4 linked regions of the Homo sapiens genome follow. The protein of the gene in region 4 purifies or fractionates together with the protein of the main gene of each other region. This does not show direct contact. Each region holds a gene or a part of one and is shown on either strand. Other genes may lie near its edges.

The links.
Region 1: the proteins of HS3ST2 (region 4) and MANEAL purify together in Homo sapiens (affinity purification with mass spectrometry; 2 studies listed by BioGRID and IntAct, with this or other methods). This does not show direct contact.
Region 2: the proteins of HS3ST2 (region 4) and UBR2 purify together in Homo sapiens (affinity purification with mass spectrometry; 2 studies listed by BioGRID and IntAct, with this or other methods). This does not show direct contact.
Region 3: the proteins of HS3ST2 (region 4) and ATL3 purify together in Homo sapiens (affinity purification with mass spectrometry; 2 studies listed by BioGRID and IntAct, with this or other methods). This does not show direct contact.

Annotation. Positions count from the first base shown.
Region 1 is NC_000001.11:37,789,334-37,797,256, forward strand, and holds the start of MANEAL (glycoprotein endo-alpha-1,2-mannosidase-like protein), read left to right. Parts: upstream 1-4,513; 5' UTR 4,514-4,849; coding exon 4,850-5,399; intron 5,400-6,154; exon of another isoform or gene 6,155-6,403; coding exon 6,404-6,513; intron 6,514-7,410; coding exon 7,411-7,487; intron 7,488-7,923.
Region 2 is NC_000006.12:42,657,302-42,665,341, reverse strand, and holds part of UBR2 (E3 ubiquitin-protein ligase UBR2), read right to left. Parts: intron 7,319-8,040; coding exon 7,209-7,318; intron 7,103-7,208; coding exon 7,022-7,102; intron 6,697-7,021; coding exon 6,518-6,696; intron 5,687-6,517; coding exon 5,487-5,686; intron 3,159-5,486; coding exon 3,065-3,158; intron 2,085-3,064; coding exon 1,923-2,084; intron 1-1,922. UniProt on the Homo sapiens protein: E3 ubiquitin-protein ligase which is a component of the N-end rule pathway.
Region 3 is NC_000011.10:63,653,654-63,661,693, forward strand, and holds part of ATL3 (atlastin-3), read right to left. Parts: intron 5,600-8,040; coding exon 5,385-5,599; intron 5,310-5,384; exon of another isoform or gene 5,252-5,309; coding exon 5,108-5,251; intron 1-5,107. UniProt on the Homo sapiens protein: Atlastin-3 (ATL3) is a membrane-anchored GTPase that mediates the GTP-dependent fusion of endoplasmic reticulum (ER) membranes, maintaining the continuous ER network. It facilitates the formation of three-way junctions where ER tubules intersect.
Region 4 is NC_000016.10:22,816,788-22,824,827, reverse strand, and holds part of HS3ST2 (heparan sulfate glucosamine 3-O-sulfotransferase 2), read right to left. Parts: coding exon of another isoform or gene 8,006-8,040; exon of another isoform or gene 6,375-8,005; intron 1-6,374. UniProt on the Homo sapiens protein: Sulfotransferase that utilizes 3'-phospho-5'-adenylyl sulfate (PAPS) to catalyze the transfer of a sulfo group to an N-unsubstituted glucosamine linked to a 2-O-sulfo iduronic acid unit on heparan sulfate.

The sequences.
Region 1 (7,923 bases), on a different chromosome or scaffold from region 4:
GACATGCTCACTAAAGTGTGAGAAGCACTTTAAGCCATGTTTAGCTGTTTTCCTTCTTATTTGTGGCTGAACACACATTCTAATCGATAGAATGGGTGTAATACATACCTTGAATGCCACGTGTCACATCTCTTTGGCCCACCTTGATTTTAGGAAAAGTTTTTAGGCAGAACTCTTAAGATGTCCCCCACCAAGATTCCTGTCCTCTAGCTATTCAATTGAAAATAATCTAGTTACTGTTGTGAAGGGACTTTGTGGAATGGAATGAAGTTTACTAATTAGTTGACCTTATATTTTATAATTTTTTAAATTAAAAAAACTTTTAGAGATGAGGTCTCATTATGTTACCCAGGCTGGTCTCTAACTTCTGGGCTCAAGCAACCTACCCACCTTGGCCTCCTAAAGTACTGGGACAGGTGTGAGCCATTGTGCCTGGTCTTTTGTTTGTTTTTTTTTTGTTTTTTTTTTTTTTTTGTAGCGACAGGGTCTTGCTATATTGCTCAGGCTGGCCTCGAACTCCTGGGCTCAAGTGATCCTCCCATCTCGGCCTCCCAAAGTTCTGGGATTACGGGCATGAACCACCACACCTGGCCAATAATTGACCTTAAACAGAGGAAGTTACCCTGGATTATCTGACGGCATCTAATATATCACATGAGCTCTTAAAACCAGAAGAGGAAGGTATGAGAGAGAGGTAGAAAGGGAGGTCAGAGAGATCCAAAGTGTGAGAAGGACAAGATCTGATGTTGCTGGCTTTGAAGATGGAAGAAGGGGCCTACAAGCCAAGAAATGCAGCAGGCCTCTAGAAACTGAGAAAGACCCCCAGATGACAGCCAGCAAGCAAATGGGGGCCTTAGCCCTGCAATTGTGTGGAACTGAATTCTGCCATTGAGCTGGACGTAGATCCGTTCCTAGAGCCTCCAGAAAGGAGTGTAACCTGCCAACGCCTTAATTTTGGCTTCCTGAGATTCCAACCAGAGAACTCACTAAGTCACACTGTGCCTAGACTTTTGACCTACAGAAATCATGAGACAGTAAACTTTTGTGCTGTTTTAACTGCTAAATTTATAGTAATTTGTTATGACAGCAGAAAATGAGTACATCTAGGATGGATGGTTCTGTGCGAGCTTAGTCTTCCTCACACTGGCGGCATCCCACTTGAATAAATAATGTGTCCGTCTCTCTTTATACCTGCCTCAAAACCTTCTCTGATGTCCTGGGAGCCTGCTTGGCAACAGGAGACCAGAAATACAAGGAAGTTAACTCCCCTAGGGAAAATGCTTGACCAGTGGAGGAGGGGGTCAGTAGGTAATTGCTTCAGCCTCACACCTCCTAACTCTGGGAGGCATTTGTACACTTCTGAAAAGACGTGGCAGAATTAAGTCCCCATTATCTATAGCAGCGACATCCTCAGTGCACCATTGGTTTGGCTTTTCTTTTGTTCTTGTCTCATTCTGTTCAATTCCTAACTCTTACTTCCTGAGATTACCTTCCAAATGACCTCCTGCTCCCAAGTCCCCTTCTCGGTCTTGTCAGAGATTGATAGGCAATCAATAGTCAGCTCCATCAGCTCACCTTGCTCAGAATAAAAGGGTAACTTATTGGAAGAATGGTCAAGTGTTTCACACCGCAACTAGGCCGCCAGGAAGACTGAAATCAGGACACCAATAACACTAAGTTTCTCTCTGTCCCTTCCCTCTAATGGCATTATCTTGTTTGTTTGTTTGTTTGTTTGTTTGTTTGTTTTTGAGAGAGGGTCTCACTCGGTCACCCTGGCTGGGGTGCAGTGGTGTGATCACGGCTCACTGCAGCCTTGACCTCTCAGGCTCAAGTGGTCCTCCCACCTCAACCTCCCGAGTAGTTGGGAGTACAGGCGTGTGCCACCATGCCTGACTAATATATTTTAATTTTTTGTAGAGATGAGGTCTCACTATGTTACCCAGGCTGATCTCAAAAGCCTGAACTCAAGTCATCCTCCCACCTCAGCCTCCCAAAGTGCTGCGATTACAGGCATGAGCCGCCGCACCCGGCAAATGGCATTATCTTTAAAGAGGATGAAATCTCTCCTGCAGACCAGAGAGTAAAATCCCAAAAAATGACTGGAATTGATGCCCTTTGGGTCAGTATTCATGATTGGTCCAGTGGAAGATGGGAAGCTATCATTGGACTAATTTTGACCACTAGGTCAGAGTACTAGCCCTGGGTCAAACTGTCAAGGCCAGGTGGCAGTGTCAAGGACTCCAGGCATGGCCAACAGGGGACACAATTGTTTCAGGGCATCCCAGAAATAGTGGGATGACTGGGAGCTGGGGAAACCTTCCCACTATTTTTCCAAAACCTTCACCACCCATTCCCTGTTCTCTTAGTTCCTCGTTAATGATTCTTTCTGTTTCCTTCTTAGACTCTCTCCTTCCTCTGCCTGTCCCAGAAATGCTGGTGTTCCTGAGAGTGCCGTCCTTACCCGTTTTCTTCTCTTTCTTTCTTTCTTTCTTTTCTTTCTTTCTTTCTTTCTTTTTTTGAGACAGAGTCTCGCTCTGTCACCCGGGCTGGAGTGCAGTGGCGTGATCTCGGCTCACTGCAACCTCCGCCTCCTGGGTTCAAGTAATTCTCCTGCCTCAGCCTCCCAAGTAGCTGGGACTACAGGCGCCTGCCACCTCGCCTGGCTAATTTCTTGTATTTTAGTAGAGATGGTGGTTTCATCGTGTTGCCCAGGCTGGTCGCAAACGCCTGAGCTCAGGTAATCCACCTGCCTTGGCCTCTCAAAGTGCTGGATTACAGGCTTGAGCCACTGCACCCAGCCTCTTCTCACTCTTTCTATTCCCAGAGTCACCTCACTCTTTGGTAGACATGGTATTCTCTCCAACATTTAACCCACTCCACAAATGTAATCTCATCTAGTCATGGTAATTCTATCCCCCTCGGCAATAATTTGTCTGGCATAAAAAGGCCTAAACCAGATTAGACCAAGGAGATTCAATGAGATGTTTGTTTAGGACTTCTGGGAAAGAGAAATCAGTCTTACCCTTGCCTGTGGAATGGGAAGAGCAGTCAATAGCCATAGCAGCCATTTTGTGGCATGAGGGGAACTGGGTTTGTATATGAAGTCAGTGGTGGGGAGAGTAGAGCAGTGAGACGGGAACATCTCAGGTTCCTAATGACATTGTTGGATCAGAGAAAATACCCACTCTGCCCTGCCACTGGGCTCCTTGCTTTGCAAGTTGATACACTGGCATATTCCTTAAGTCAGGCTGAATCGGGTATGGGCGACCTGGAGCTGAAGGCATTCCACTTCATTCACATTTACCACCATAAGGTCTCTCAAGCTCACTTTCCTCGGCTGCAGGTCTACCAACACTTCCCAAGCTCCCTGCTCCTCTTCCTGGGTTCCCTACAATTCATTTTACTTAACCAATAAGAACTGGGTGCCCGCCATCATCCCAAGCTCTGTTTTAGACATGCAGACAGGGAATGAAACAAAGTTGCTGTCATTGCGGACCACTGAAGGAGGCATATGATAAACAAAACTATCTTCTGAATAAATGAAGTAATGAATAATGCAGTGTAGGAACTCTATCAATAGCGAGTGAAAAGCTTATTATCTACAGACTATCACACCAGGGGCTGGTACTCACTTAAACGGCACTAGGAAGTGAGTGTCAGATGCTGTTCCGGCAGCCCTTGGCGTCTAACAAGGTAAATAAGACGGGGCCTGTCCTCTGGAGCCCAGAATCCAGGAAGAAAGGCGCACATGTATTGAGCGCTTGCTTTTCAGGCCCCGTGGAAGTGCTTTACGGGAACCATCTCATTTAATCCTCCCTGACTCTAGGAGGTTCTCCCAGGAGAGACCGCTCCAGACGACATCAGGCCTACAAGCCAAGAAATGCAGCAGGCCTCTAGAAACTGAGAAAGACCCCCAGATGACAGCCAGCAAGCAAATGGGGGCCTTAGCCCTGCAATTGTATGGAACTGAATTCTGCCATTGAGCTGGACGTAGATCCGTTCCTAGAGCCTCCAGAAAGGAGTGTAACCTGCCAACGCCTTAATTTTGGCTTCGTGAGATTCCAACCAGAGAACTCACTAAGCCACACTGCGACCCGGCAGGCTGGGCAGTGCAGCGAGCTCTGGAGAGTGCGCCCTGACCCGGGGTCCAGGCCCGGTCAGTGTGACCTTGCGCGAGTCACGGTCGTCCTCCGCCCGCCAGGCCCCGGACGGCGTCTGCAGGGTCCGATTCCTGGGGATTTCCCGACGCCCCTTCCCCCGAGGTTCAGGGGCTGCCTGGGGTGCCGGGGAGGGGGGCCGAGGGATGGGGGACCTGGGGCTAGAAGGGTGGCACTGAGACCCGTAGGGAGGGGGCCAGTGAAGTGAGTAAAGGTGGATCGACGAAGAAGGAAATCCTTGGGGAGAGAACCACCGACGCGCGCTTCTTTCCCCCCCCCGCCCCGCCTCCGCCCCCGCCCCCGCCGCGCCGCCTCTCTCCCGCGCTCCGGAAGGCCTGCGTCCCCGCTCCCCAGCCAGGCGCCACCACCTGCCGCCCAGGCAGCCAGGCGACTCTTCTTTCGCGGGTCACGCGGCCTGACTCAGGCCCCTGCTCCTGTGGCCCCGAAACTCGCCGTTCGCTGGGCCTTGCGTTGCACTCGGCGTGCAGTTCCCCCTCGGCTCGCGGCCACTTGGTCCGCGCCGCCTGCGTCCTGTGTGCCGAGCCCGCCCGCACTGCGGGGACAGGCCGGGCGCCGCCCACGCCGCGCTCTGCCGGGCGCACAGTCTGCCTGGGAAGCGCGCGGCCGGGCGGGCGGCCATGGCGCGGCACGCTGGGAGGTAGCGCGGCGGCTGCAGGAGCGCACAGTCGGCCATGGCCCGGCGGCGGCGCCGCGCCTGCATCGCTCTGTTCCTGGTGCTGCTCTTCGCCTTCGGCACCCTCATGGGTCTGCGCACGCTCAAGGCTCCGGACGGACTCCCGGCGCTGGGCCCGGGCCTGGAGCTGGCGCCCTTTGAGCGACGCCCAGAGGGGGCCCCCGCGCCCGCTGCCAGGGCCCCGGCAGCCCCTGCCGCGCCGCCCCCGCCGCCGCCGCCGCCCCGCACCGCGGACCCTGGCGGCTCCCCTGGGCCGGCACCCGCGGAGGCCGAGCCCGCCCCCGTGCAGAGCCTGCGCGTCTACTCGGACCTGCACGCCTTCTACTACTCGTGGTACGGGAGCCCGCGGCGCGAGGGCCACTACATTCACTGGGACCACGTCATGGTGCCGCACTGGGACCCCAAGATCTCGGCCAGCTACCCCCGCGGCCGCCACAGCCCCCCAGACGACTTGGGCTCCAGCTTCTACCCGGAGCTGGGGCCCTACAGCTCCCGGGACCCCGAAGTGCTGCGGGAGCATATGACCCAGCTCAAGGAAGCCGCCATCGGTGAGCGCCCCCCACCCCGGGCGGCCCTGCCCCCCAGCCTCACCCTTCCTCCTTCCCACACCCCAGCTCCCTCTGGTCCTGTCACCGGCCCTTTGGTCCCACTTATCCGCCAGCCTGGCTTCTTAGCTGTTCCCTCCCACTCTCATCCTGGGCCCACCATGCGACACCGCCCCTCCGTCTAGTATTCAGACCCCCCAGCTGGGCCCTTCCATCCCTAACATCCAGGGCCCTTCCCATAGGGCGGAACTGCTAGGAGTTTGCACCAGGAGAGGGAGGCAGAGTCTTCAAATTTGTTGGGCGATGGGAAGTGAGGCCTGGAGTCCTGGCCCGCAGGTTCTGGGGTTCAGAGGAGTGGAACTTAGGGCGGCCTCTGCTTTCATGGCAGGTACAGGGTAGAGCAGCAGCCGTTCCTGCTTTTGCTGGCTGCAGAGAGGAAAGTGTGCCCGTGTTCCATGAAGGCCTCTGCTCTATTTGCAGTTGGAGGTAGTGTTGGGGGTTTAGAGGCTTTTCATCAAGCACCCAGCTGGAGGGAAGGTCCCAGGGCGCCTCCTTCGTAGGCTATGGAGGGGAGGCTCACTTATTTCGGATTTCGTCACTGAATTTTGCTGGATTTTACAGATGGCCTCTGCTCAGGGCTCTTCTCCATGCGGGACGTTAGGGTTAGGGGTGCTTCTCTTCTTCAGAGGTAGGCCTGTGGCTTCCAGGTGGGTGTGGCACTGTCCTCCCATTCCCTTTGTTCTACTACTTGCTGAGGCAGTCTAAAGCCTGGCTCCCTTCCGGCCTGGCGCGCTACGGTTCCCGCAGGCGCTCCGCTTCAGCACCGCGGGCGTGGACAGCTCCGGGGCGCGAGGCTCTGGGACTCATCTGCAGGAAGTGAACCTGGCAGGAGGCTTGCTTCAGGTTTTTAGGAACCATTTTTGCAATTGGAGATGTTTGTGAGGAAAAAAATCTCTGTTGAGGGGGGTACTGTGTGTCTCTGAAGTGGCCTCTGTGTTGCGTCTCAGGCGTCCTGGTCCTGTCCTGGTACCCACCTGGCATGGCTGATGATAACGGGGAGCCCTCAGATGACCTGGTGCCCGCCATTCTGGACACCGCCCATCAGTACAGCATCCAGGTGAGTCTCCAAGAAGAGGCCACGTGCTCTCTGCCCTATTCTGGAGAGTTGCTCTCCTCCGCCCACAGGGTTAGTGCCTCTACAGAAGTTCTTGGCAGTAGCCCAAAGGGATAACAAATATGTGGCAAGTGTGGTTTTGGGGGAGGGTTCAGATAAATGGTGCCTATGTTGCTCTTAGTTTTTTGAATTCTAAGAAAACTGAGAAAACTAAATATAGGACCAAGAGAAGACTAAATAATTATCACTTTTGTTAAATAATAATAGAGGTTAGGTTGTAAACCCTGGTGGAAAAAGGGTAGGCAAGAGCCAAAGGGACCTGCAGACTCAACTCTCTAGTGGGAGGCAGTGCTGGACCTCGAGGAGTAGGCAGGTGTTCTCAGCAGGTGGGCTCACTTTCAAGAGGAAGGACGGACTGGACGAAGCATTTCCCCACATGTGCCAATCAAGTAAGTCATCCCTTGCTTCTGTGGTGAAGGAAGAAAAATGATAGAGAAAGAAGAAAAGCCCCACTCCCCTATTCCTGAAGAGAATTCCACCACTGACATGTCTAACAGATCACAGCAGTTTTCCACTGACACAGCTTCAGCATACTTATTCCACTGTTTCAGGCAGCTAGCACCAACCACTTGGAGCTGGCACAAGGTTGAAACCTATTAGCCACCCTGTAACAGCCCACCAAAATGATTCCCACATGCCCTGCTGCGGGAGATGGGCAAACTGCTCACCCCTGTTTTGGCCTTCAAGGGCAGCAGCTGCCTTTATCTCTACTGTGCCCACCACTGCCAGGCCCTCTTCTGAACTCAGCCTCTCCTCCAGGCCATGGTTAGATCCTGAGCCTGATATGTTGTGGCCCCTAGATAGACACTCACCTGACCATTACTCCTCTGTTTGTGGCAGGTGGCCTTCCACATCCAACCCTACAAGGGCCGGGATGACATCACTGTACATGACAACATCAAGTACATCATTGACACGTAAGGCTGCTCTGGGGGCCGGGATTTTGGTGGGGATCAAAATGGAGGTAGGGATAGAAGGTTTGGAGGGGCAGGTCAAGAGACACAGGGCATAATGCCTGTGTTTCCCAGCAGCTGTTTTATAGTAAGAGAGTACTGGGCCTAAAGTCAGGCAGCCTGGGTTTCAATTCCTGTCCTGTGGCTTCTAATCTGTGATGAGGCAAGCCTCTTAACCTTTGAGTCTTGTGAGAATCACACGAATTAATATATGTGAAAGTAGCTTCTACAATGTAGGCACCTCATTTATTCATTCAGAAAGTATTGAATGAAGGCCAGGCATGGTGTAATCCCAGCACTTTGGGAGGTCGAGGCAGGCGGATCACTTGAGGTCAGGAGTTCGAGACCAGCCTGACTAACGTGGTGAAACCCCGTCTCTACTAAAAATAAAAAAATTAGC
Region 2 (8,040 bases), on a different chromosome or scaffold from region 4:
ATGATCACAGGCATATTTTAGACACACTCCAAATATTAAAAACAAAAAGGATAAGGGAAAATTTGTTGCATTAAAAAAAATCAGGATATTGGCCAATGGAAAGGAATATATTATTTGTCAATATGATGGTAATAACACTGTGTATTAAAAATCTCACTCTTCAGTATTGGAATTTGCTAGAATTTCTTAAGTATCATAATCACCATCACTATTAATATCTACCAAGTGCTTATTATGTTACAAGCACTTAGTAAGGAATTTTACTGTAAATATCTTATGGTATTAGACTTAATCCTCAAAATATCCCTACATTTTGTTTCAGGTTGTATTATTATTTGCATAGGTTGTATTCCTATATTTTGTAATAGGTTTTATTATTGTCCCCATTTTACAGATGAGGAAACTGAGGTTTAGAGCTATGTAACTTGACTAAGGCCGAATAAGGGACAAAGCTAGCATTCAAACTTGGCTCTGTCAGATTCCAAAGCCTGTGTTCTTTTTATGATTGTATTCGAATATGACTAAACCATAATTGAATCTCATGGGCAAAACCCAAAAATTGGACCAATAAAGTGACAGATGAAATCCAACAAGGGTGATTTCTTCTTATACACAGTTAATCCTCCATCTAACAATAATTAATTTCTTCATCAGTTCAAATGCAGATAAGTCAGTACCACGATATTCTTTTATAATTAAAAAGCATGAGCTTACACTCAAATCTACTAATATTTTAAGAACATTTTGTGGTAGCATAGACTAAGAACACCAAAGTTTGAACTCCTAAAACTGACAAGAAAAAACTGACTTTGCTTTGAACTGAATCCAAATAACACAGAAATGGATCGTTTATACTCACATAACTTAGTATTTGTGCATGCAACGTAGATAGCATAATTCTACATTGAGAAATGAAGTTCAGATTCGAAAAGCAGACATTATCAAATTCATACTCGAAATGAGTATGTCCAATACTCGTAACTAAAAGCATCCAAAAAACTGTGAAGTTACAGAAATTTTCCATTTTCTTTTCTTATTTTTTTTTAGTCTGCTAGACAAATTCTAAAAGAGCTAAAAATATGGAACACTTCATGAATTTGTGTGTCATCCTTGTGAAAGAGCCATGCTTATCTTCTCTTTATCGTTCCAATTTTAGTATATGTGCTGCTGAAGCAAGCACTTATTTTATTTTTGAGACAGGGTCTTGCTCTGTCACTCAGGCTGAAGTGCAATGGCATGATCAAAGCTCACTGCAGCCTTGACCCAAGCGAGCCTCCCACCTGAGTCTCTGAAGTAGCTGGGACTATAGGAATATGCCGCTACATCCAGCTAACTTTTTATTTTTTGTACAGACAGGGTCTCACTATGTTGCCCAGGCTGGTCTTGAACTCCTGGGCTCAAATGATCCTTTCATCTTGGCCTCTCAAAGTGCTAGGATTATAGATGTGAGCCACAACGCCCAGCTGAGATTTTTCCATTTAAAATATACCAACAGATTTTCACTTTTTTGCCTGGTTCTTAAAACTATGAATGGCCAGTACAGCAAAAAGTTTTATTCGATTTTTAGACTGTCCTATAAAGTCAGTTTGAGTTGTTCCATCTCCCTCTACCAGTTTACTGAGCATCTCTTGAAAAGTGTATGGAAGATATTAAAAGTAGGGTCCCTAGAAATAAACCAGATACTTGGTTTTCATAAATACATAGGAATTTAATAGCTTAGAAACTGTTAAATTTTCACCTGTTCCTCTCTAAAAACTAAAATCACATTCCACAGGTCTGCTAGAAGAAAATGATTAGAGTTTGGAAAGTATCTGGAAAACACTATGCAATTGCCTAGACTAAGTTTTCCTCCTTGATTTATTATTTCATTATCTTCAAAGCAAACTATTGCTTTGTAATAGTTGTCATGAGCCAAAACTTACTTGTTAAAAATATTTCTTGGAGGAAGCAGCAGAGGAATAACAGTATTACTCAAGCATTCACAAAGGGGGCAAAGGAATTCTCCGTTTTCTACATCATAGCTCGTATGTAAGCGTAATCTCTGTTGCCTTCGCTGTTCTTTAGCTTGAACGGAATCAAAATACCTTTACAATTAGAGAACATGAGGTATCAAAACAATGGTAATTTACATAAATGACAGCCATAAGCTTCAACATTTAAAATAATTTGTTTCCACAAATAGTTCAAAAATGAAAATCTTAAACTAAATTATTTTTAACATGATTTTTGAGTGATTTTAAAAATCCAAATGGATTAAAAGTTCTAAAAGAGTAAAATAAAAAAAAAGACTGCCATGTAAAAAAGCATTCACAAAGCAGCAACAAAAATTTCTTGGTGTCATTGTTCTCTTGCCACTTCCCCAAGGCTGGTGGCTATTTGTTTTTTTTTTGTTGTTGTTGTTGTTTTTGAGATGGAGTCTTGCTCTGTCGCCCAGGCTGGAGTGCAGTTGCACAATCTTGGTTCACTGCAACCTCCACCTCCCACATTCAAGCAATTCTCCTGTCTCAGCCTCCCAAGTAGCTGGGACTACAATGTGGTGGCTAGTTGTTAGGGGTAGTTCATGATAACTGGGTGAGCATAGTTCTAGAATAATAGTATTATTGATTTGTTGGTTTTGTAGAAGCATAGGAAACACCAAGGTAGAACAAATTCAGGACATCTCATCACAGGGAGCCATTACAATTTTGGGAAGTAACAAAGCAAGTACTAACATCTATGGAATCAAAAGTTGTCCACCCTGGACCCAAAGAAAGACAACATTACCCTTCTAGAGTTTATCCTACTGTAAAAACCCTTTTCTTCATCCACAGACTGATACAGATCCACTTCCTTCTTTGGAAGATATAGAAGAGACTTGGATATAAAGCTAAATTAAAAAACATATCTGACATACACTTTACATCTATGACAAGGCAAATAACTTTTGTTATTTATTAGGCAATGATACGGATTTTTTCAACATTTTTAGTTCTTTTCCTTTTTTCTAGAATGAAATTTCCTCTATTTAAAAAATATTGAGCCCTTAGATAAACTTCTCTTGACAAATATTAAGAATATACATTACCTTTGCCAACAATGGGCATGCATAATGTGCCCACAGCTACTAGTGTGTGTTCCACAAGACAGATCAGGGTGCATGAATAATGGATCATATTTTTCTGCATTACAAAACAAAACAAAACAAAACAAAAGTGAAGCATTTAATTTTCCTATAACAAATGTGTAACTTTAAATTGTAAAATCCTTGATAAAGACTTGAAATTTGAAATGAAATGCTAGTTTATTCCTCTGAGATACCAATTTATGCAACACCTTGGATTATTTAGAAAGTAGGACTCTCTAATTTTCACCACCCACAGCAAATTAATTAAACATTCTCAAATTGTTAAACTGAAATTAGAACTATGAATTTAAATATATCCAATCTTTTGAACATTTCACACTTTCAGGGTGCTGAGATATTCCAATTCCTCCCATTGTACCCTGAGCTCCAGGTAAAAGAGCTACTCTCTTCATGGGGCTGCCTTATGTGCGTTCAGGGCAGCTGGGTTAAAATGATCGCTAATAAAAAATGTTTTGGCAGTAACGGGGCGCCCCCTAGAGGACAGACTGCCTAACAACACTCATACAGCGAATAATCACATCAGAGCCAAAGTGACAACAAAAAATCTAAGCACAGACCAGATCAGATGGGGGGAAAAAAGGTAATTCAGAGTCTTCTGTCCTGGTGCTAATTTTTATATTCAAAGGGGATGAAAAATCATGAAAAACAAGATGGATGTCTGGCTTCTTTTGGAATTTTTGAATTCTTTATATAAATTAGTATAATCTTCGAAATTTCCTAACACTCTAGAAAGAACTACTTTTAATTTGCTTTAATAGTTTTAATTTGCTTTAACACTAGAACAGTGCAAATGTCAAAGCATTAAGAAAATCCACTTATAGCCAGCTAATGCTTTTTCTTCAGAAGTAATAAGTTAAATAAAATTAGCAACTTTGTCTTTGGCCTGGAATGAAATTTATAAAGCACCTAGTTTAAATATCTTTTTTTTTTTTAAGACAGTCTCGCTTTGTCGCCCAGATTGGAGTGCAGTGGCGCGATCTCGACTCACTGCAAGCTCTGCTTCCTGGGTTCACGCCATTCTCCTGCCTCAGCCTCCCGAGTAGCAGGTAACTGCCACCACGCCTGGCTAATTTTTTTTTGTATTTTTTAGTAGAGATGGGGTTTCACTGTGTTAGCCAGGATGGTCTTGATCTCCTGACCTTGTGATCTGCCTGCCTTGGCCTCCCAGAGTGCTGGGATTACAGACATGAGCCACTGCGCCTGGCCTTTTTTTTTTTTTTTAAAAACAAACAAACAAACAAACAAAAAAACCACACAGGGTCTCGCTCCGTTGCCCAGGCTGGAGGGCAGTGGTGCAATCTCGGCTCACTGCAACCTCTGCCTCCCAGGTTCAAGCAATTCTCATGCCTCAGCCTCTTGAGTAGCTGGGACTACAGGCGCGTGCCACCAAATTTGGCTAGTTTTTTTTTTGTACTATTAGTAGAGATGGGGTTTCGCCATGTTGGCCAGGCTGGTCTTGAACTCCTGACCTCAGGTGATCCACCTGCCTCGGCCTCCCAAAGTGCTGGGATTACAGGCATGAGCCACCATACCCAGCCTAAATGACCATTTTTAAAGATGAAGCAGACCAACCTTTCATAAGTAGGATGCAAAGACTTTCTTTACAGAGAGAAGGCAACTCTAAAAGTGGGCTCTCAAACCTCCTTTCACGCTGCAGTGTGAAAGGCACTGGTTAAAGCAGTGCTCTGGGAATTCCCAAGACACAGTTCCTACTCTCAAGAAGTTTACTGGGTATCGCTGAAGCACACGCACACAGAGCACAACCTACAAGCAGAGAAATAAATGTGTCTGTGGTGGACAAAATCATGTGCGGACTGGATCTCCCTGCTTTACTCCCTCAGTTGCTGAAAGAGGGCCCTCAACTGTCCTGCACGGTAATCTGTATCCCAAGAATCTGCTTTCTGGGGAACCCGATCTGTGGTGGTATTACTATTCTAAAACAATTTGGCTCAAGGATTGCCTCTTACATAGGTAACTCTCCATCACTGTTCTCAGGAGATTCCACTCAGGCTCTATCAATAAGACAAAACAATTATTATTTCAGTGTGTCAACAAATGACCAGGACTTTGCAAGTGTACTGAAGGATGGAAAAGACTGTGAAATGCCAAAGTATGTAATGTTACATCACAAAGAAAAGCTTTTCTTTGAATCCCTGCTATTTATCAGCTATGTGATTCAGGTGCAACTTTCTGGAGTGGTTCCACATCTGCCAAGTGGGGAATTCCTGCCTAAGTTACCTGCCAAAGATACCATCCAAGTCCATGGAGTTATTTTTAGGTTTAAAAAATCTCAACGTATCACCAACCACATTAACTGGCAGTTGTTATTAAAAGGGAAGATGAGGATCTAGCTATGACTTACCTGGATCTTGAATAAATTTACTTCTGTTTTTTGATAATACAGTTGATCTCTGAACAAATGCTGCCAAGACCATTGCCCTGCTTTCCACTTTAACTTCTTGCTCCTCTTGACACAATATACATGTAACGAATTGTCTTTGTTCAGGAACCTGAGTTTGTGCGGGGCCCAGTGCTGTAAGTGTCATATCTGAAGCCACAGGGCTGCAATACAAAGGTTATGAATATAATTAATGATCCCAAAACTTTCTATATAATCACAAAATAGCAGACTACAGGTATGTGTGTGTGTGTGTAGTGTGTGTGTGTGTGTGTGTGTGTGTGTGTGTGTGTGTGTGTATATATATTTATTTATTTTTTGAGACAGAGTCTTGCTCTGTCACCCAGGCTGGGGTGAGTGGCACAATCTTGGCTCACTGCAACCTCCGCCTCGCAGGTTCAAGCAATTCTCCTGACTCAGCCTCCTGAGTAGCTGGGATTATAGGCATGCACCACCACACCCGGCTAATTTTTTTTTTTTGTATTTTTAGTAGAGATGGGGTTTCACCATGTTGGTCAGGCTGGTCTCGAACTCCTCACCTTGTGATCCGCCCGCCTTGGCCTCCCGAAGTGCTGGGATTACAGGCGTGAGCCACCACGCACAGCCAGGAATGTATATATTTAACACATGGTTTTGATAACTTGGATTGTCAAGTCTTTGGTATGTATCAAAACCATCTCCTTTAATCCTCACAGTAATCTAATCTTCAACACAGATGTCATACGCTCTAGGTAACTGAGTGTAGTGTACTCATTCTTTCATGAATGTCCAAGGTCTTCTGCAGAAAATACCCTACCAGGTGTACACAGGACTTACCATACCTACATTCAGAGACTTCTAAGATTAAATCTTCTAAATGGAGGTCACAAAATTTACCTATGAATTCTACTAAATTACTTTAGGATTAAAAGTATACTTACAAGGAGAAAACGCAACACTGCCCCTAGTTGGGAAAAACTCGTCAAGACATTAATTTTTTTTTTTTTTTTTTTTACCTATGATCAAGAACAGCAGAGGTTGAGGCATCCAGTTCTAATGTCTGCTGAAAGAGTTCTTTGTTTTCATCAATAAAATGCCGCTGCATTTCAGACATCTGAGCCATGATCTTTTCTCTGCGCAGTCTGGCAATCTCTGCTTTTCTCTTCCTCTCAGCTTTGTCTTTGTCCCTTGAACTCTGAAATTATGCTCCATTCAATTAGACAATTAGATGCTAAAACGCACATTTTTTTCCAAAGCAGAAATATCTTCACTGTAAATACCAATTAAAAAACTATTCTATAATCTCACTTATTTAAATAAGAGAAAAGACTCTTAAACTGACTTGTTTTAAAGAAAAAAAGCAGACAAAAAATTGCTACAACAAATAGAGATAAATAGTGGCATATTTCTTGGAATTTAAATGTTGTGAGTAACTGGCAACTTAATGTAGATAAATTTATTTTGTTCATACTGAACTTGCTGTAATTTTTTAGTATTATCACACTTTTTACTGTTTATACCTCTTCCATTATGGTTCCTTCTGTCTCTGCCACGGGACTGGTAGGTGAACTCTCCCTCATCTTTTTAACAGCATTAAAAGTCTACAAAAAAAAAAGTATCAGTATCCTGTATGAAATATGATCACAATGTACACATAACAAATATTCAATATTTCTCACAAAAAGCAGAGGAATGTGGAAATTTTACCTTCAATATCCACCGAATCATGTCTTTGTGGACTTCTAGGTAGGGAGCATTTTGTAGTGTTTCCAGCATAGCTAGTATGCTAGGAGAATTTTTTGGCGCTTCACCAGGTTCTACGGCAGAAAAATAAAAGGCACAATAACAATAGCTAATACTTCATAGTACTTATTCCTACGCACAGGAACATAAATGCAGTTGCTTATAACACCTATTGCCCATAATTTGATTATGGCTCTACCAAAATAGAGATTTTCAATACTTCTTGAGAATGTGACATATTTGTCTTTTACAAACAAGTTGCCAACAACTAGAATTCTTTAAGGATTCAAAAGTGACTTTTTATAGCAAATGATTATTTTAACATCCCTTTAGCAAAATTACATACAAATTCAGCTAAAAATAAGTGGTGTCTCAGATTTTACAGGTCTAAAAATAAATTAGCATTAAGAGGTGCATATATGCACAAATATGTTTATTTGCTCTGACCATTGACTTTAATAAAAACTAGATTCAGAATAAAATGAATTTCTTCTCCTAGGAATTCATAGTTTGTTTATTTGAATATAAGAGTCAAGTCCATATTTTCTATTAGTCTGTAGCCAGAAAGTTCAACTATTGATTTTCTTGATTTTGGTGCTGCCATTCTGGAAAAATGTCCCTTTTTCCTAAGAGGGGAAGAGATTGACCTGTGTGATCTTTAATATTCTATCACATCTAAAACTGTGGCATGCATTAGAGATGTGACTCTAGATAAGGGAGAGGTTTCTTTGGAAATAAATCGTGTGTCTTAATTATGTAGAATGTCTAAAGACAAGTTAAGAGTAATGTTGAGGGA
Region 3 (8,040 bases), on a different chromosome or scaffold from region 4:
AGCAATAAAAAGAAATGAACTATCAAGACACGAAAGAGTTGCAGAAATCTTAAAATTGCATTGCTAAGTGAAAGAGGCCAATCTGAAAAGGCTGCATATTGTATGATTCTAACTATATGACATTCTGGTAAAGGCGAAACTATGGAGACAGTAAAAAGATCAGTGGAGGAGTTTGTGGGGAGGGAAGAGAGGAACAGATAGGTACATTACAGAGAATGTTTAGGGCAGTGTGACTATTCCGTATGATACAGTAATAGTGGGCATGTGTCACTATACAGTTGTCAAAATCCAATGTACAACACAATGAGTGAGCCCTAAAGTAAACTATGTATGGGTTTTAGCTAATGACAATATATTGGTTCAAATATTAATTGTAACAAATGTATCACACTATTACAAGATGTAAACAACAGAGCAAACTGAAGGAGAATGTGGGAACTGGGCAGGTTGCAATTAATTTTCCTGAAAACCTAAAACAAAATAAAGATACAATTTGTTTTTTTTTTTTTTTTGAGACGGAGTCTTGCGCTGTGGCCAGGCTGGAGTGCAGTGGCGCGATCTCGGCTCACTGCAAGCTCCGCCTCCCAGGTTCACGCCATTCTCCTGCCTCAGCCTCCCAAATAGCTGGGACTATAGACGCCCGCCACCACGCCCAGCTAATTTTTGTATTTTTAGTAGAGACGGGGTTTCACTGTGTTAGCCAGGATGGTCTCGATCTCCTGACCTCATGATCCGCCCGCCTCAGCCTCCCACAGTGCTGGGATTACGGAGTTTCACTCTGTTGCCCAGGTTGGAGTACAATGGCACGATCTTGGCTCACTGCAACCTCCACCTCCCAGGTCCAAGCGATTCTCCTGCCTCAGCCTCCCGAGTAGCTGGGATTACAGGCATGAGCCACCATGCCCGGCTAATTTTTGTATTTTTAGTAGAGACAGGGTTTCACCACGTTGGTCAGACTCGTCTTGAACTCCTGACCTCAGATGATCCACCCACCTCGGCCTCCCAAAGTGCTGGGATTACAGGCCTAAGCCACCATGTCTGGCCTATTTTTTTTTTTTTTTTGAGACAGAGTTTTGCTCGTCACCCAGGCTGGAGTGCAATGGCGCAACCTCGGCTCACCACAACCTCCACCTCCCAGGTTCAAGCGATTCTCCTGCCTCAGCCTCCTGAGTAGCTGGGATTACAGGTGCACACCACCATACCCGGCTAATTTTTGTATTTTTAGTTGAGCAAGACTGTCTAAAAAAAAAAAAAAAAGTTGTTTTCTGTTAATTTTAATATCTGTGTTAGTTCTGAGACAGTTTTGATTGATTTTTCTCCTCATTTGGGTTATATTTTTCTGCTTCTTTTATGTCTGCAAATTTTTGATAGGATGTAGACTTGTGGATTTTCCCTTGTTGGGTGCTGGTTATTTTTGCATTCCTATAAAATATCTAGCTTTATTCTGAGATGTAGTTAAGTAATTTGGAAACTCTGGTTTTTTCTGTTCTTGCTGTTTAGATTTGTTAAATGGAACCAGAGTGTTGTTATTCCTCATTACTGAGGCAAGACTGAGTACTCTTCCTAATCCCACTGCAATCTCCGCCGCCCAGGTTCCAGCAATTCTCCTGCCTCTGCCTCCCAAGTAGCTGAGATTACAGGTGGGCGCCACCACGCCCAGCTAATGTTTGTATTTTTAGTAGCAACAGGGCATCACCATGTTGGCCAGGCTGGTCTCGAACTCCTGACCTCAGGTGATCCGCCCACCCCAGCCTCCCAAAGTGCTGGGAATACAGGCGTGAGCCACCGCATCTGGCCTTTTTTTTTTTTTTTAGATGGAGTTTAGCTCTTGTTGCCCAGGCGGAAGTGCAATGGTGCGATCTCGGCTCACTGCAACCTCCACCTCCCGGGTTCCAGCGATTCTCCCACCTCAGCCTCCCAAGTAGCTGGGATTACAGGCATGACCCATCACACCCAGCTAATTTTTTGTATTTAGTAGAGATGGGTTTTCACCATGTTGGTCAGGCTAGTCTCAAACTCCTGACTTCAGGTGATCCACCCACCTCGGCCTCCCAAAGTGTGAGATTACAGACGTGCGCCACCGCGCCGGCCAAAGAATTTTAAATGAACATCTTGTGGAACAACTTCAAGCAGCAAGAGGCACATGTAATAGGAGTCTCCAAAGGGAGTAACAGACCAAAAAAACTTGAAGAAATAATAACCTTAAAATGTCCAAATTTGATAAACATTATAAATCTGCAGATTCAAGAAGCTCAACAAAACCCACATACAAATAACATGAACTACATCAGCCTGGCGCAGTGGCTCACGCCTATAATCCCAGCACTTTGGGAGGCCAAGGCGGGCAGATCACGAGGTCAGGAGATCGAGACCATCCTGGCTAACACAGTGAAACCCCGTCTCTACTAAAAATACAAAAACTTAGCCGGGCGTGGTGGTAGGCGCCTGTAGTCCCAGCTCCTTGGGAGGCTGAGGCAGGAGAATGGCGTGAACCCGGGAGGCGGAGCTTGCAGTGAGCCGAGATCACGCCACTGCACTCCAGCCTGGGCGACACAGTGAGACTCCGTCTCAAAAAAAAAAAAAGAACTACATCAAAACACATAATAATTTGCTCAAAAACAGTGATAAAATCTTAAAAGCAACCAGACATACCCTATAAATATATATACCTATGTACCCACGAAAATAAAATTTTTTTTAATTTAAAGAAAAAAGCAACCAGACAAAAAAGACAGATTAGGTACAAAAGAACAAAAATAAGAATAACAGTGTATTTCTTGTCAGAAACAATGTCAGCAGACTGGGCACAGTGGCTCATGCTTGTAATCCCAGCACTTTGGGAAACAGAGGCAGGTGAATAACCTGAGGTCAGGAGTGCAAGACCAGCCTGACCAATATGGCGAAACCCCGTCTCTACTAAAAATACAAAAATTAGCCAGGCGTGGTGGTGCGCGCCTGTAGTCCCAGCTACTCAGAAGGCTGAGACAGGAGAATTGCTTGAACCCGGGAGGCAGAGGTTGAAGTGAGCCGAGATCGCACCACTGCACTCCAGCCTGAGCAACAGAGAGACTCCCTCTCAAAAAAAAAAAAAAGAAACAATGTCAGCAAAAAGGCAAAGGGGCAACACCTTTGAAGTACTGAGAAAAATACGTTGGCCTAGAACTCTACACTAAGAGTAAATATTTTCCAAAACAAAGGCAAAATAAAGATTTTTCAGATGTATGAAAGCTAAAAGAATTCAGTACCAACACTCCAGCACTTCAAAATATCAAAGGTGGCCAGGTGTGGTGGCTCACCCCTGTAATCCCAGCACTTTGGGAGGCTGAGACAGGCGGATCACGAGGTCAGGAGTTCCAGACCAGCCTGGCCAACATTGTGAAACCCTGTCTCTACTAAAAATACAAAAATTATCCAGGCATGGTGGTGTGCACCTGTACTCCCAGCTAATGAGGAGGCTGAGGCAGGAGAATTGCTTGAACCTGGGAGGCGGAGACTGTAGTGACCAAGATGGTGCCACTGCACTCCAGCCTGGGCAACAGAGTGAGACTACATCTCAAAAAAAAAAAAAAAAAAAGGACAAACAGGTGTGAAGGCATGCTTATAGGATTGGGCTAAAAACAGAAGTAATGGATGAAAGTCTGTATAAGAAACACATGACTTACCCCTCCCGATCCTTACAAAGAAATCTGTGGAGAGGCTCTATGCCCATAGCTTACAAGGCATAGATGAGACTGGGGCTAAGAAGCCCTACTGATAGCTAGGGGATAGTGAATGCCCACCTTCTGAACAGTGAGATCCCCAATGCCATTTCCCTGCTCAACTCCCAGAACAACAGCCAGGTCTGTGCCACCCATACAGGAGTAAGGAAGTAAAGAACAGAAGTGGTAACACATAAGAGCATCAGCCTCTGGGAAGTGAAAACTGGGTAGAGAGGAGAATAACACACATGACAGCTGCTTTCTGTTAGAAGCCTTACAGTAGTACCTGACCTTTTAAACTATATTCATGCATTTTATTTAAGAATCTTAAAAACAATCAATATGTATTAATTTTAAATCATTCACTTTGATAAAAAGTTGTTTTCACATCTTCCTTCCTTTTATTGAAAAAAAATTTCAGAAAATAACAGTTCATAAAAGACACAAACAAATCAACAGGTATATACCAGTGGAAAACACAATATGAAACTAAAAATGCCATTGGCTTTTTTTTTTTTTTTTTGAGACGGAGTCTCGTACTGTCGCCCGAGCTGGAGGACAGTGGTGTGATCTCGGCTCACTGCAACCTCTGCCTCCCGGGTTCAAGCGTTTCTCCTGCCTCAGCCTCCCAAGTAGCTGGGATTACAGGCACCCACCACCACACCCAGCTAATTTTTTGTATTTTTAGTAGAGACAGGGTTTCACTATGTTGGCCAGGCTGGTCTCAAACTCCTGACCTTGTGATCTGCCCACCCTGGCCTCCCAAAGTGTTGGTATTACAGACGTGAGCCACAGCACCCGGCTGCCACTGGCTTCTTTAATTGGTTAAGAGCACAAAATGTAACAGGCAGAAGGTCTGTTTCAAACAAATTAAAAAGCTATGTGTTTTTTAAATTCTCCCCAAGTTGGATATACACACACCCACAAAAATAGTGTGTGAAGGAAAGCTGTCATACACAGTAAGTTGTATCCTGAATTATTCAAGGAAACACATGTTGAAATAGGAATTAACAGAGTCAGCAACAGATTAATATTTTTTAACTGAGTCTAAAAATGCTACATAGCCCTAAGGAATACTACATAAAGTACTGCTAGGTACAAACAAAAAAGTCTGTATAGCTTTTAGCAAAAATGTTTTTCCAGAAAAGAAAATTAAAATAATGCAATCAGCAGACCAAGGAGACTACAGCTAGACATCAGAGCTACAACTTCGCATACCTGTGTCAGAAAATCCTATTTATCCACAACAGACTAAAATTTCAGGACAAAACAGGGACTTTTTAACTTTTCTTACTTTACCCATTTTAAATTCTTTGATAAAAGGTTTTTAATTGGGTTAACACAGTACATGCTGAAGTTCATATTTTGTTGTTGTTGTTGTTAATCTGTAAGGTCATTTTCATCCTTACCTTCTTCCCACCTGGCTTCTCCACAGTGAAAACTTCACTCCAGATTTGAATCCCAGTGGTTTCTGGATCAGATCCCCCTCTCCAGGAAAATCCTGTTAACGGTTCTTCTGGGTCACCCAACCAATTTGAATGGCCACTTTCCTTCTACAGAAGTAAGAAATTTCTATTAAATCTTAAATTAAAAATTTTATGCATCAAGGATAATCTATGAGCTTATTTCGCTTTTTTGGACATTAAAGTCTCACTTTTTACTTGAAATAAAATAATTCTATCTTACCTGAGAATATAAGTATCGTAGCATAAAATCCAGAATGAAGGACTTGCCCTTTCGGAAGGCACCAGCCACTGAAACCACCACCACATCAAGATCTCGGATGTGGTCCTGCAAGAGGATGCTGGCCAAGGCTTTCTCATCTAGCTCAAAGGAATGTTGATCTTTCTGAACCAAAACAACCTGCACTGGACCAGGCTTGCTGCTCTCCATGGCATCATCTATGTTCATGCAGAGAAAAAAAATCAGTGTCAAATATTTAAAATATGTTTTTGAATATAGGGAAAACAAAAACTTCTTAAACAGGGGACAGGGCCAGGCTCAATGGCTCATGCCTATAATCACAGCACTTTGGGAAACCAAAGCAGAAAGATTACTTGAGGCCAGGAGTTTCAGACTAGCCTGGGAAACGGTGAAACCCAGCGCTATGAAATTTAAAAAATTAGCCATATGTAGTGGTGTATACCTGTAGTCCTAGCTACTTGGGAGGCTGAGGCAGGAAGACTGCTTGAGCCCAGGGGTTTGAGGTTACAGTGAGCTATGACCACACCACTGTACTCCAACCTGGGTGACAAAACTAAACAAAACAAAAAACGGACACAAAAATACTAACCATAAAAGGGCAGGGCACAGTGGTTCGCCCCTGTAATCCCAGCACTTTGGGAAGCCGAGGTGGGTGGATCACTTGAGGTCAGGAGTTCAAGACCAGCCTGGCCAACATGACGAAACCCCATCTCTACCAACAAATACAAAAATTAGCTGGGTGTGGTGGCACGCACCTGTAAGTCCTAGCTACTCGGGAGGCTGAGGCACGAGAATAACTTGAAACTGGGAGGCAGAGGTTGCAGTGAGCCGAGATCATGCCATTGCACTCCCACCTGGGTGACAGATAAGACCCTGTCTCAAGTTAATGGGTGCAGCACACCAGCATGGAACATGTATACATATGTAACTAACCTGCACATTGTGCACATGTACCCTAAAACTTAAAGTATAATAATAATAAAAAATAAATAAAATAAAATGTTGTTAAAAAAAAAAAGACCCTGTCTCAAAGAAAAAAAGTACTATCCATAAAAGAAAATAAAATGACAACACAGACTTCATTAAAATTAAAAACTTTGTTCACTTAAAGACTTCAATAAGTAAAAATGCAAGCCATGGGCTAGGGAAGAGTATTCACAATATCTGTTTCCAAAGGACCCACATCCAGCATCAACATAGCAATCCATAAGAAAAAAATAACAGGCACTTTGTAAGAAAAAGATATACAAATCCTATTAAAAGGTACTTCCATATCATTACTTAACAGGGAAATCTAAATTAAAACCACAATAAGATACCACTACCTGCCCATCAGAATGGCTAAAATTTAAAGACTGACAATATCAACTGTGGGACAGGGTATGAAGCAACCGCAATTCTCACACATTCTGATAGGAGCACAAAATACTAAAGCCACTTCAAAAAACTGTTTGGCTGTATCTACAAAAATTAAATATATCTGTGATCCAGCAATTCTACTCCTAGGTATACACCTAAGAGAAATGAATGCCTATGTCCACCAAAAAACATATATACAAGAATGTTGAGCTGGGCATGGTGGCTCGCACATATAGTCCCAGCTACTTGGAGAGCTGAGGCAGGAGGATTACTTGGGCCCAGGAGTTCAAGACCAACCTGGACAATATTGCAAGACTCTATCTCAAAAACAGAAAGTTCATTATCAGCTTTACTCAAAACAGTCCAAAAGTGGAAATAAAACAATGTCTATCAATAATAGTGTTTGCCACTGCTAAGCTTTATTTAGATATATATATACACATATATATATATTATTTAATCCTCAGAACAACTCTTTGATGTAAATAATACTGCTCCATTTTAAGAAGAAGGAAATGGCCAGGCTCAGTGGCTCACATTTACAATCTCAGCACTTTGGGAGGCCAAGGCAAGCTGATCACTTGAGGTCAGGAGTTCAAAACCAGCCTGGCCAACATGGTAAAGCCCCGTCTCTATAAAAATACAGAAAAAAAAAAAAATTAGCCATGCGTGGTGTCGCACGCCTGTGGTCCCAGCTACTGAAGAGGCTGAGGGAGAAGAATTGCTTGAACCGGGAGGCAGAAGCTGCAGTGAGCCGTGATCGCGCCACTGCACTCCAGCCTGGGTGGCAGAGTGAGACTTGGTCTCAAAAAAAAAAAAAAAGAAGGAAATGAAGGCTTATGAAGGTTCAGCATATTGCCCAACAGGTCCTAGATATAAGCTCAAAAAGATCTTTAGGTGGTTGTATTTTGCATATCACTAGTAATAACTCAAAAAGTTTTAGAAGCTATTAATTCTATAGTTCAAAATTAAGCACTAACTATATTATACTTTCCTTACCAGAGTTTCCCTACCAAAGCACAAAGATAACTAATTAATTTGAAATTCAGGCCAGGCACAGCATCCACGCCTGTAATCCTAGCACTTAGAGAAGCTGAGATGGCAGGATTGCTTGAGGCCAGGAGTTCAAGACCAACTTGGCCAATATAGCGAGAGACTGTCTTAAAGAGAAGAGAAGAGAAGAGAAGGCAAGGGGCCGGGCGTGCTGGCTCACCTGCGCAATCCCAGCACTTTGGGAGGCCGAGGCGGGCAGATCACCTGAGGTTGTGAGTTCCAGACC
Region 4 (8,040 bases):
CCCTTTAATTGACCATCAGCCCTATTAAAGGCAAGCTTGGGAAGCCCTGTCATCATAGACACCCTCTGCATTGCCTCTGTTAACCAAGGGAAATTCCAGGGACCATTTTCTGCAGTGGGTCTTCTTTTACACAGTTAAAAGCACACAAAGAAGTTGCATTGTCTTCCGCTCTTGATCCAGTGAAATTAAACTGCCTGAGAAAGCAAAATTGACATCCTACCCAGCCCTGTGTATAAGCTTCATGGTTTGTTTGTTTGTTTGTTTGTTTGTTTGCTTGCTTTTTGGCGGAGTCTCGCCCTGTCACCCAGGCTGGAGTGCAGTGGCTCTATCTCGGCTCACTGCAAGCTCTGCCTCCCGGGTTCACGCCATTCTCTTGCCTCAGCCTCCTGAGTAGCTGGGACTACAGGTGCCTGCCACCACGCCCGGCTAATTTTTTGTATTCTTAGTAGAGACAGGGTTTCACTCTGTTAACCAGATGGTCTCGATCTCCTGACCTCGTGATCCACCTGCCTCAGCCTCCCAAAGTGCTGGGATTACAGGCATGAGCCACCACGCCCAGCCCATGTCATGTTTTTAAGCTTCACGTCATGTTTTCCAGAATGGAAGAAAAGGTATTTTGCATCCTGAGATTTTACAAAAGGGACGTCCTCTCTCACATGAGCCTCAAAATTAAAATAAAGAAAAGCCTTGTGCCACTGTCTCATAAATTGCTGATTCCCTAGTGAAAACAACTTTATCTCTGACTTTTGTGACACTGACGTCTACAGATACGTGACAATCTATGTAGATGTGGTAATTGTGGAGAATACTGCTGACTTTCCACCAGTAAGAATAATGAAGAAATCCATTGTAACCCTGTGAGTTGACATTGTCTTTTAAATGCTCACCACACCCTTTATTCAGGGAACCTGGTTCTTGGGAAGGCTACACTCCCTTGTAAATATTGCAGGTCAAACTCTCCTCTTAGTGCTCATATTTGTTCTGAGTTTTCTTTTGGCTCATCTCTCCCAATCGCTAACACATTAAAGAAACCTGAAAAGCTAGAAACAGTCTCACTCTATCACCCAGGCTGGAGTTCAGTGGTGCAATTATAGCTTATTGCAGCCTCGAACTCCTGGGCTCAAGTGAATCTCCCATGTCAGCCTCCCAAGTAGTTGGGACTACAGGTGCCTGCCACCATGCCTGGCTAATTTTTTTTTTTTTTTTTTTAGAGAAGAGGTCTCCCTATGTTGCCCAGGCTGGTCTCCAACTCCTGGGCTGAAGCGATTACCCAGCGTCGGCCTCCAAAAGTGCTGGCATTACCACCGCACCCAGCCCATCATTGGATTTACTTAAACTGAGTTTTCGGCAAACTCCAACAATATTTCCCATAACGTCAGTTGTGTGCCTCATCTTGGTAATTTTAGGTACTACACAGACTTACTAAATACCACCAAATCACACAGTGAGATGTATTATCTCTCCTTCTTTACCTTCATTCCTTCTGATTACATCAAGGAGAAACATCTCACATTGATATTGATATTTCTTTAACTGCTCTTAGTAGTGTCCCCTAGTATCCTCTTTTAAGCAAAGATGGAAATCACTGCAGGCTTAGAACATTCCAGTCACACTAGAGAGCAAAAATTCAATCACACTGTTTTGTTTTCAATCTAACTTATTTTTATGATCACTTTCTAATTATGGCAAGTGTTGCCGGTTTTCCATTTAGGGTGGCTTCAAAATAAAGTTGCTTTTAAACAATATTTATTTTAACTATACTTGCACAGTATGTGTTAGATTTGCAAATCCATAGCATATCTTTAGAAAGATACACAAAAACAGGTACCTATGGTTGCTTCTGGGAAGAGGAACTTCTTGGCTGAAAGACGAGGTAGAAAGGAAGGGATTAATTTTCTCTGAATACCCTTTGTCACTTTTGAATTTCACAATACAAATATCTTTTTTTCTTTCTTTCTTTTTTTTTTTTTTCTGAGACGGAGTCTTGCTCTGTTGCCCAGGCTGGAATGCAGTGGTGCTATCTTGACTCACTGCAACCCCTGCCTCCCAGGTTCAAGCAACTCTCCTTCCTCAGCCTCCCAAGTAGCTGGGACTACAGGCGCACGCCACCACGCCCAGCTAATTTTTTGTATTTTTAGTAGAGATGGGGTTTCACCATGTTGGCCAGGCTGGTCTCAAACTCCTGACCTCAGGTGATCCACCTGCCTTGGCCTCCCAAAGTGCTGGGATTACAGGCGTCAGCCACTGCACCCAGCTGAATATCTTGTCTATTCTAAAATATATAAACTGAAGGGGAAAACTTGTTCTTTGTGATAAATTATCATTTTTAAATGGGCTAACTTAAGCAAAAAAATTAAGAAGGTTGGATGAGATGGCTCACACCTGTAATCCCAGCACTCTAGGAGGTGGAGGCAGAAGGATTGCTTGAGCCCAGGAGTTTGAGACCAGCCTGGGCAACAAAACAAGACCCTGGCTCTAACAAAGGATTTTAAAAATTAACCAGGTGTGTTGGTGCACACCTGTAGTCCTAGCTACTTGGGAGGCTGAGGTGGGAGGATCACTTGAGCCTGGGAGGTTGAGACTGCAGTGAGCCTTGACTGTGCCACTGCATGAGTCTCAAAAAAAAATTAAGAAAATAATAGTAGAGGTCATGCTGGGCTTTGGCAAATGTCATGAAGGTGGCACAAAAATGTCTGAAATCTGAAAAAATTCTCCCTCCCAAATAACTATGCCACCATTTGGAAGGCAGTGTGAGAGGTCCTTTAGCCTCCACCTAGAGCAGACACTTCTGGCTTTCTCACTTGGGGAGTGTTCATGGTGGCTGGTGGCCATGGACACTGAGGTGGAGCCATTGTCAGCTCCTCTGATTTGAAAAGCTTAGGAAGACACCCAATGGACCCATGCCCAGGAAATCCACGTGATGCTCCGGCTCCAGATCACCCAAGCCCAAACCTCTGTCTCATATGCCCTGGAAAAACATACTTAATAATAACTTCCTCAGAAGCACAAGGTCATTTCCCCTCCCGGGTGGCTTTTACCCACCTCGTCAAGCTGCTTGTGAACCTCACAGTGCTTCAGCCCAGCCATGCAGCCCATTAGGAGAACAAAGTGGCAGCTGAACCGGCCTACAGCAGCCTGGCACCAAGCCTGGCCAATGGAAAGCATTTGACAAACGAATGGATTAACCTGCACCGGAGTTAGCTCCAGCAGAGACAGTGAGTCCCACAGGTTTAGGTTATCTGTGTGACTTATCAGTTCTGAGTCACTACCCCGCAAAGCCCCACTTCCCTATCACCTGCCCTGAGCCCTCACAGGTGGAGATGACCTCTCCTCAAGTCCTCCAGGGGATCTGATCAATAGGGAGCTGTGTGCTCCCCCACCCCGTCCCCATGCACCCTGTCACTCGATCATACAGGAATGATTCATAGAGGTCTAACCAAAGTTATTCTACAGCCCTGCATACCAGATACACAGAATATTACCAAAGCATTACCAAAGCATGCAGGTAATAGCACCTGTTGAGCATTGACTCTGCTTCAAATCCGCTAGGGCCCTTTGGATGTGTCTCCAGATATGTGCAAGGTACAGCAAGTGCCTCTGTACAGCAGGCCATGAAGGACATGCCCACCATCGCATCTTATCTCCTGTGAGTACCAGCCCCACACCTTCCCTAATTTCAGGATAGTTGCTTTCAGGGAGATGGCATGGGTAACATTCAAAAATATAAAATGAATCCAGCTCCCGGACCAATCAGAAGAGAGCCCTGCTGGCTACAGAGATGAAGCAGGGTCTAGTCACTGGCTCTTTGGAAGGTCCAGAGAGTCCAGGTTAGGCTGGGGAAGCCAGGTCTCCCAGGCAGAGGGCATTTCCGGAATCAGTATGGAAACATCCTATATCTTCAATCTAAGACACCATCAATCATAAGATACATGCTAATTTCAGAGATGTTAAAGACGCTTCTTAGAACCTTTCAGTGGTATTTTCACACGTTAACATCCAAAACAGGCTTAACAATGTGTGTAGCTGGAAAGTACTGGGGCTGTCAGCATCTTCTCCACCTAAAATGCTCCTGTAACAAGTGATAGGGTTTGGCTGTGTCCCCACCCAAATCTCATCTTGAATTGTAGCTCCCATAATTCCCACATGTTGTCAGAGGGACCAGGTGGGAGATAATTGAATCATGGCGGTTTCCCGCATACTGTTCTCGTGATGGTGAATAAGTCTCACGAAATCTGATGGCTTTTTACGGAGTTTCCCCTTTTGCTTGGCTCTCATTTCTCTCTTGCCTGCTGCCATGTAAAACATGCCTTTCTCCTTCTGTCATGATTGTGAGGCCTCCTCAGCCACATGGAACTGTGAGTCCATTAAACCTCTTTTTCTTTTTAAATTACCCAGTGTTGGGTATGTCTTTATCAGCAGTGTGAAAATGGATTAATAGACTAAGGCTTTGGGGAAAGCCTGTTCTTCATTCCCCTTCTCAGCTCCAAGGGGAAGGGAAACCAGCTCTTCAAAAAACTTCCTTGAGCAATGACAATTCTTGTTGCCCATTCCGAATGTTCCTCCATGCCTGACAAGAACTGTACATTTGCTGGCACTAAGTATTATATCTACAGCATGCTGCAAGGCTGACAGAGTGCTGCAAGACAAATGGGGGGGGGTTTATGGACTCAATGGTTTCATTTAATCATACTGTGTGACGTTCGCCTGGACCAAGACAGGGAATTTCTGTATAAAGGCCTAAGTCTGCATAGATGCTGCAATTGTGCATGCAGGTGCACATGTGTGGGTGTGCACACACATTCATCTATGTGCACACCCAATGAGCACAGATCAGTCTGTTTTGTGTGTTGATCAATTTGTTGAAAGATGATAAAACTGTCTGCATTAACTACGTCATGGCAGGAGGCCCCTTACCTTCTGCCTTTGATTTTATTTTTTTCTAAGGTTTGCATTTCCAGAATTGGGCTTTGCAATTAGAATATGATTTCTTGATGAAAATGAACTGGATAATGTGATAGATCTTATTCTGGGCTTTTTATTCTCTTTCGTACTTAGACTGTTGCCTCTGGGGCAAATATTCTGTCTTCTTTGCTTTGCACCATCCCAAGAACATCATCGATGCTGAACAAATAAATAACCAGAGTTGTGAAGTGAAGTCTGAAATTTATAGAACAGGCTCATCTATCAAAATTTGGACACCAGAACACAGAGTCAATTATCACATATTAACTTGCTCTTGTTGGCATTTCAATGCATTTAGAAAAGATACACTTCCTCCACACACACATTCCCCTGCCATACCGAAACACCAGCAAAATTGAGAACACTTCAGACATATCTCAGCTTTCCCTGTGACTCTAAAAACTACTACACACAGCAAAGCTTATATCTGTTTATAAAAGATGACCCTGAAGAGTCTATTTCACATCCAAACTTCCTTAGAATGGAGAGCATCCTAAAGATAACCTTAGATTTGGAAAAACATTTTCATGTAGATAGTCTTACTTGATTTTTATAAGGTTGCAAAGCAGTTCAGGCATCATTGCCATTTCACAGGTGAGCAGACTGACACCCAGATATGTGAACTGACTTTCTGTTAACATGGAAGGAGGGAAGGAAAGAGAAAAGGAAGGGAGGAAGGGAGGAAGGAAGGAGGGAAGGAAGGAAGGAGGGAAGGAAGGAAGGAAGGAAGGAATGAAGGAAGGAAGGAAGGAAGGAAGGAAGGGAGGGAGGGAGGAAGGGAGGGAGGGAGGGAAGGAAGGAAGGAGGGAAGGAAGGAAGGAAGGAATGAAGGAAGGAAGGAAGGAAGGGAGGGAGGGAGGGAGGGAGGAAGGAAGGAGGGAAGGAAGGAAGGAGGGAAGGAAGGAAGGAAGGAAGGAAGGAAGGAAGGGAGGGAGGGAGGGAGGGAAGGAAGGAAGGAGGGAAGGAAGGAAGGAAGGAATGAAGGAAGGAAGGAAGGAAGGGAGGGAGGGAGGGAGGGAGGAAGGAAGGAGGGAAGGAAGGAAGGAAGGAAGGAAGGAAGGAAGGGAGGGAGGGAGGGAAGGAAGGAAGGAGGGAAGGAAGGAATGAAGGAAGGAAGGAAGGAAGGGAAGGAGGGAGGGAGGGAAGGAAGGAAGGAGGGAAGGAAGGAAGGCAGGCAAGGAGGGAGGGAGGAAGGAAGGAAGGAAGGAAAAGGAGAAGGGAAAGGGGAGAGAGGGAAGGAGGAAGGGAAGGGAAGGAATAAAGAGGAAAGTATGGAACTATCTTTATAGCAATTGATTAATTCCTCAGCCCGATTTAGTAACAGCAGCAGCATCAGAAACTAATATTTTTAATACTAACAGAACTAATAGTGATAACAGGAGTGTTGTAGTAATTAGTAGCAATAACAGTAGTAACATTACTGCCTTGTCTTTATATATCATAGAATTTTCCAGGGCAATTTCATGTACAGTTTTGCATTTATTCTTCACAACACGTTTCTAGGATAGTTACTACAGGTCCCATTCCATGATGAGGAAGCTGAGACTTGGGAGAATCACCTTTCTTCAAATCATACAGCACCTAGGTGACCACCTCTGGTCTTCTGACTGTGGTTCCCTGTCCTGGTTCCCTCATCAGCCTGGTGTTGCTTTGCCCACCTGTCCAAGCAGCTAGGAGATACCACCCTGCAGCTCTTACCTCGGGGAGGAAATGTGGGTGGGGGAGAACCCAGGCCAGACACATAGTTGAGGTAAGCATCAGAGATGGCATGGCAGAAAGACAGCAAATTGGAGAGAACCCACTGCAGAAGGCTGGGCTCTCTGGTAGTGGCCTGAACGGGAGTGGTTCCCAAGAAGGATCAGGCTAAGGACAAGAAGGTGCAGACTCTGTCTCCTGGTCTCTCCAAATGATGGTGTCTTTCTGGCTATATCACTCGGCCTTCAGCTTTATCTCCATTTACCCACAGAAAGAAGCCCCTCCTTTGGGTTAAGGGTAAAGCTTTTGATTTTTCCACTATCTGGATTTCAGCCTCCTGATCAGGAAGTTATCACCAGGGGCTTTGATGTGGGCAGATCATACTAAGATCCACACTGCCTGCAACTCTGCACCTCCCCCTTTGGAAAGCACAGTCCACTCCAATGGGTGCAAGGGTTCTTTGGCTATGTCTGCCCAGTGGACCCTGGCTTTATGATGGCAAGCTGTGAACTGACAAGGCAGTGGACAGAGAGCGGAACATCCTGTCACCCACCGTACCTAGCTCATGGGATTCAGGAAGAAAGTAAGAACATGGGTTTTAAAAGATTCCAGAAATCCCCATGATTTCTGCAGTTAATGTGTATGACTTGGTCATAATAAAAAGAAATGTACAAAAATGTTCTTTACATACAGAAAGATGTTCTGGAGGTTATGGAAACAGCATCTAAGTGGGGTAGTATTACCCTGCACAGAAATGGCAATCCACAAGCTAAACACTTGACTCTAGGGGTGTGGATTTGTAACTGAAAGAAGCACAAACCACACAGCCTTTTCCTGACACTGGAGCCTCCCAGCCTTCCTGGTCAAGCAATGGGGAGAGGGCAATTACGACCAGACCTCTAGGATAGTCTTTTAGAAATATAAAGTGGGGAAAGGTGGTAGAGGGGGAGAGAAGAGAGAAGCAGAGCTGTCAGCATGCTTGATGTTAAATAAAACCTACCAAGACTCAGCTGAGAATTTTAGCAGAATCCAAATGTGCTAAAAAAAAATAAATAAATAAAAAATAAGACATGGCTTCCCTCTCTAAGGTTCACAGCTAAGCTTGCTTAGAATCACACATGCCAAGGTTAAAAATAAAAAGCAGCCATCCCTGAATGACATGGGCTCCAGGATGGAAGCCTGAGGTATGCTGTTTAGTGGTGGAAGGAAGAGAGGGGAGGGAGGAGAGTCTGGGTTCAGGGCATAGGTATTTATTGGAGGGCACACTATCTGAAAGCCAGATGCTCAGAATTTTGCTGTTTTGCACTTAAAAGGCACTTCGCATTGGCAAAAGGTGTCATAATGATCTTCAGATTTTCCATCGAGGAAATGCTGGCCTGCATT